2 linked regions of the Homo sapiens genome follow. The gene in region 2 interacts genetically with the main gene of each other region. Each region holds a gene or a part of one and is shown on either strand. Other genes may lie near its edges.

Region 1 (3,500 bases), on a different chromosome or scaffold from region 2:
ATCTCCTGACCTTGTGATCCGCCTGCCTCGGCCTCCCAAAGTGCTGGGATTACAGGTGTGAGCCACCATGCCCAGTCTAGTATCATATTCTTTTTTGTTAGAATGAGCCTTTAGGGGGCTTACAATGAATTAAATAAGCAAAACAAGGAGTAAAATTGAAAACCCTTAGTTTTCTTCTTTTGTGTAAAAGATTACTATAATGCAATAAAGAAGAGGTCACTCCTTAAAGTTGCTTGGTGACTAATCTTCAGATCTAATCTTCAATTATTTTACACTTAAAATTAGTAAATGTCACATTTGCAAATAATGGCTTCAAAATTTAATAAGCTTTAGGAAACTTGTACATTTATAATACCTAACAAAAACCAATGCCCATCCTCCATAAACCCTTTCCTTCTCTAAGTCTTTGGTTCTCACACTGCTAGAGTATTTATGTTTGATACGGTACTGTCATTTTGGCATTCCACCACAGAGTATATCATGCATACTGCTATTTATTTCATGTGAGATTTATCTCCCCAATGAAACTTCAGATTGATTGAAGACAGAGACCACGATGACATATAATCCCCACAGAACCCAGCAAGACATTAAATACAGTGAAGTATATTTAAGTTTTTACAACTTCACTCAAGCGACATTAGTGTTTCTTAACAAAATTAATGTGGCTATGTTTATATTTAAACTTTAACCCCCTTGGCCAATTATTTGGGTCCTCCATCTGGCTGTGACCTGCTTTATTTTCTAAAGAGTCTATTCCAGCATTTCCACTTTTCTACACAGCAGTGAGAAGCCTAGCATACAACTCTAAACCAATTCTGCCTCTACTCATTTGTTACATAAACTCATTAAAATTTATAGAAAGCGACTTTGTGATTAGAAAAAGTCAAGGAAACCAATTAATTAAATCAAATTATATACTTAATTTATTTCTAAATATATGCAAATAAGTTCAGTAAAGGTTTAGCTTTCCCAAACCTTAGGTGTCCACAATCGTCTTATTAGGTCATAAAATGACCTAATGGTTCACTGAAAAAGAACACTTAACTAAGAACTGATGACCTGGATTCAATTCCAGGCAAATCGCTATAATCCACAAAAACTTCAGCAACTCAGTCAACATCTCTAAACCTCAATGTCTCCCTCTATATAAAATGGGGTAATGCCTTACCCACCTAGCTGGGTTATTTGGGGAAGCAAAAGAAATAATAAATTATTTGAAACTATACATTAAAATATGAATTGCCAGTTTTGTTATTTACTTCATTGAAGTTAGGAGCGTTTTGCCAGAGGAAGCACCAAAAGTTGTTTGTTAAAGATCAGAGAAGAAAACTGAAGTATGAAATTTTATCAATAACTTTATAGCTGAGAGCTTTAGAATTTAAAAAGTTCCAAAGTTCTACCATTTTAATTACTGTTTGGAATTTGGCATGCTAAACTTATCTAACAAAGGCTCAAGAGAAAAGGTTAAGAATCACGAGAAATTCCCTAGTATGACAGATAAGTAAGGTTTACTTATCACAAAGAAGAAAAAAATATTTATATATATATGTATATATATTACCAGATTTTTCAGGAGCTCACATCCTAAGCCGCCAGCTCCAATGACTAGAACTTTACATGTATCTAACAAGAACTGGAGAGACTGTAAAGAATGGAAAGGCATATTAAAAGCTGGGTGATAACCGCAAAGACTATAAATAAAGCAACAAACTTTAAAATAGTTTCTGATGTTTCCAGGAAAAAATGCCACTAGGATAAAGAGGAGACTTTGTATTTGCTCAATTATTTGAAATTTGTGAATTCTATTGAACCAGGAATTCTAAAACTCTAATGATTTCAGGAAGTTTCAATGTTAATTTTTCTTTTTTTTTTCTTTTTTTTGAGACGGAGTCTCGCTCTTGTCACACAGGCTGGAGTGACTGATGGGATCTCGGCTCACTGCAACCTCCGCCTCCCAGATTCAGGTGATTCTCCTGCCTCAGCTTCTCGAGTAGCTGGGATTATAGGTGTGCACTACCACACCTGGCTAATTTTTTATTTTTAGTAGATACAGGGTTTCACCATGTGGGCCAGACTGGCCTTGAACTCCTGACCTCAAGTGATCCGCCCGCCTCAGCCTCCCAAAGTTTCTTGGATTACAGGCATGAGGTGCCGCGTCCGGCCATTAATGTTTTTAAATTGCCTTTTATTGTATGAAAGTTAAAGGGTATTTTTAACAAGGAAAACTATCTCTAATTTGTTTTTTAATTTTTGCAAAGGGATAGAGAACATCAAATTCAGTTAACTGACTTCCTAAAAATATAAAAGTTTAAAAATTTAAAAAACAGAGGATCAAGCACTGCCCAAAGTGTTTAAAGGAGTAAAACAATAAGGTAAAAAGAGTAACAGGGCTGGGCACTGTGGCTCACACCTGTAATCCCAGCACTTTGGGAGGCTGAGGTGGGTGGATCACCTGAGGTCAGGAAAGACCAGCCTGACCAACATGGTGAAACCCTGTCTCTACTAAAAATATAAAAAATTAGCCAGGTGTGGTGGTGGGCGCCTGTCATCCCAGCTACTTGGGAGGCTGAGGCAGGAGAATCACTTGATCCTGGGAGGCAGAGGTTACCATGAGCCAAGATCACACCATTGCATTCCAGCCTGGGCAACAAAAGCAAAACTCCATCTGCGGCAGATGGAAGGGGAAAGAGTAACAGCTGCTTTTTTTTTTCCTTTTTGAGACAGGGTCTCACTGTGTCACCCAGGCTGGAGTGCAGTGGCATGATCAGAGCTCCCTGCAGCCTCCACCTCCAGGTGCAGTCAAGCAATCCTCCCACCTCAACCTCCTGAGTAGCTGAAACCAAAGACATGTATCATCATGCACAGCTAATTTTTTTTTCTTTTCTTTTTTTCTTTCTTTTTTTTTTTAGAGATGGGTTCTCTCTATGTTGCCCAGGGTGGTCTGGAACTCTTGGGCTCAAGTGATCCTCCCGCCTTGACCTCCCAAAGTGCTGGGATTACAGGCGTGAGCCACCTTACCTGGCCAACATCTCCTTTTGAATAAAGTGAGCGAAACTCACAAAACATGAGATAACACGAAAACATATAAAACTCTTAGAAAATTCCTTATCAGCAGAAATACAATCATTTAACAGAAGTAACAATCTTAAATTATCAGGCAAAAAAAAAAATTTAGAAGCACAAGAAAATATGGTGTGTTATCTAAAGAAAGACAGAATTAATACTTTCAATTCTTTTTCTTTTTTTTTTTTTTATTTTTAATGCTTTCAGTTCTGCCCAGCATTAAAGGAGAAAGTTATTCACATGAGACACTGGGCCAAACCAAGAGTTTGCACGTTAATTTATGGGAGTAACACAATATTTCTATTTCAAAATACTATCTTTTTATAAATACAAAAGCACATAAAGATGTGCTATACTTTTCCCTACCCTGTAATAAAAAAAAGTGACATATAAGTGAACACTTGCCTTAAGATAGACACTATCAGTCCAAAATT
Region 2 (2,555 bases):
TTCAATAAAGCTTTAAATCCTAAGATATTACAGAAGTGATTGTCTCTCTCTTAAATTGTGCTTCTAAAACAGTAATTTAGTATCCCAAATTTTACTACCAAAGATTTTATTAGGAACAAATTTGGGATGTGTTCTTTAATAACTTACGAAATAATTATGTGGACCTTCAGATATATAGGCTATACAAAGTTGCAAAGATTAATAACATTTACTTTCACAGAAATTTGAATTTTAGGCCGGGCACAGTGGTTCACACCTGTAATCCCAGCACTTTGGGAGGCCAAGGCAGGCAGATCACCTGAGATCAGGAGTTCAAGACCAGCCTGGCCAACATGGTGAAACCCCATCTTTACTAAAAATACAAAAATTAACCGGGCGTGGTGGCGGGCACCTGTAATCCCAGCTATTCAGGAGGCTGAGGCAGAAGCATCACCTCCACCCAGGAGGTGGAGATTGCAGTGAGCCAAGATGGCGCCATTGCACTCCAGCCTGGCCAACAAGAGCGAAACTCTGTCTCCAAAAAAAAAAAAGAAAGAAAAGAAATTTGAATTGTAATGCAATAATTAGAGGCAGAAAGGAAGGAAGAAACATATTGACTTCTATAAACATTTATATGTTGGTATCTATTTTAAGAACTGGTTTGGTTTATAGGGAAAAGAAGAGAAAAGAGTAGCTAAAGTGTATCCTGGGATTGGAGGTCATTTTGGGTTAGCCTTATTTCACTGCCATCTTCTCAGTGGGTTTTTAGAAGGTAGAGCTAGTGGCCTGCATAAAAGTTGCGTTTTTCGGCTGGGCATGGTGACGCATGCTTATAATCCCAGCCCTTTGGGAGGCCAAGGCAGGCATATTGCTTGAGCTCAAGAGTTTGAAACCAGCCTGGGCAACATGGCAAAACCCCATCTCTGCAAAAATTTAAAAAAAAAATTAGCTGGGCATGGTGGCGCAGATCTGTGGTTCCAGCTACTTAGGAGGCTGAGGCACAAGAATCACTGGAGCCTAGGAGGCAGAGGTTGCAGTGACCCATGATTGTGCCACTGCACTCCAGCCTGGGTGACAGAGTGAGACTCTGTCTCCAAAAAAAAGTATTTTTCGTTGGCATCAGGAGTCATTTTAGATACTTGCTTTGAGTGTGTGTTTTGTTCATCTGTCTTTATGTATGTCATTTATCAGTTTATCTACATTTATTAATTATGAAGCAAAAATTTTACTATGGCAATGTCTTCAATTATATAAGAAATAGAACAGAAGTAGTAATCAAAAGTAGAGAATTTTCCTTTTTGGGGTAGCTTTACAAGAATTGCATCTCTTCTGAGTATTGGTGGGGTTTTGTCATTTCTTTTGCCTTATACTTTTTATCATTTCTAAAATCTAAGGCCTTCACCCGCTAACCTAAGTTTGACTTCTGATTGTTGGAGGATGCTTGTGATTATTTCAGAAAAAAGCATAGTATTCTTTAAAATTATTTGTCAAATTATCCTAAGTAATAAACAAGGAATAACAGATTTTAATATAATATAATATTAGAATCAATCTCTAATTACAGGTTTGTATAATTTTACTCACCTTCTAAAACAGAACAATTGTATCAAATTTTACGTTGTCATTCTCTTGTGAAAGTTCTAGTAAGTAATGAAATGGTCAAAAAGACATGGGGAAGACTAATAAAATCACAAGGGAAAACTTCAGATTGGGGTGGTTTGAGAAGTATGAATAAAACTAAACTCATTGGAGTTACATGGATGGATTGGGGCTGATCTTGTGTGTTTGAAATAGTTTTCAATTTATGACATCATGTGATGTGTGTTTTTTTTTCCAGCTGTAAAACTACCATAGAAGCTATCCATGGATTGATGTCTCAGGTTATTAAGGATAAACTGTTTAATCAAATTAACATCTCTTAAACAGTCTCTGAGAAGTACTTTACCTGAAAGACAGTATGAGAAAAATATTCAAGTAACACTTTAAAACCAGTTACCCAAAATCTGATTAGAAGTATAAGGTGCTCTGAAGTGTCCTAAATATTAATATCCTGTAATAAAGCTCTTTAAAATGAAATTGTCCTTTGATTTTTTTGTGGGAAGATTCGCAATATTTTTCTAGTATCCATTACGGTTCTTGAATATGAGAGAAAATATATTTATTAGAACTTTCTATTTTTAAGTTTAGACTATCTAAATTAGTCAATTTCAGCATTTCACTTGCCATACTGATTGTCAGAACCACTTTTCAATTTGTCCCTTCTTTTGACTGTCTGTAAGTAAAATATAATTTAACAGTTCATTATTTTAATAATGTATTAGGAACACTTTTAATGTTCCTACAAAACATTAGCTGAGTAGTACCATAAATTATTTTCCTGAAAATCAAATACTTATTAGAGACAGCCTAGCACAGGGTATCTAGTCCTTCAAATATTCATCACATACCTTTCCTGAGCTGGTGACTGTTACTCTCTGGAAATATGCTGAACAAGCTAGACATGGCCACTGTCCTCACAGAACTTCTGGAGGCTAAAGCTTAATTAACAAGAACTTAAAGATACTGCTGTGAGGGGA

What was found. Genes that interact genetically often act in the same process or in processes that back each other up.
Region 1: changes in COPS5 (region 2) and UBA3 together harm fitness less than expected from each alone (positive genetic interaction), as found in Homo sapiens cells (one large-scale study listed by BioGRID).

The regions. Positions count from the first base shown.
Region 1 is NC_000003.12:69,073,866-69,077,365, forward strand, and holds part of UBA3 (NEDD8-activating enzyme E1 catalytic subunit), read right to left. Parts: intron 1,646-3,500; coding exon 1,565-1,645; intron 1-1,564. UniProt on the Homo sapiens protein: Catalytic subunit of the dimeric UBA3-NAE1 E1 enzyme. E1 activates NEDD8 by first adenylating its C-terminal glycine residue with ATP, thereafter linking this residue to the side chain of the catalytic cysteine, yielding a NEDD8-UBA3 thioester and free AMP.
Region 2 is NC_000008.11:67,042,579-67,045,133, reverse strand, and holds the end of COPS5 (COP9 signalosome complex subunit 5), read left to right. Parts: intron 1-1,816; coding exon 1,817-1,901; 3' UTR 1,902-2,055; downstream 2,056-2,555. UniProt on the Homo sapiens protein: Probable protease subunit of the COP9 signalosome complex (CSN), a complex involved in various cellular and developmental processes.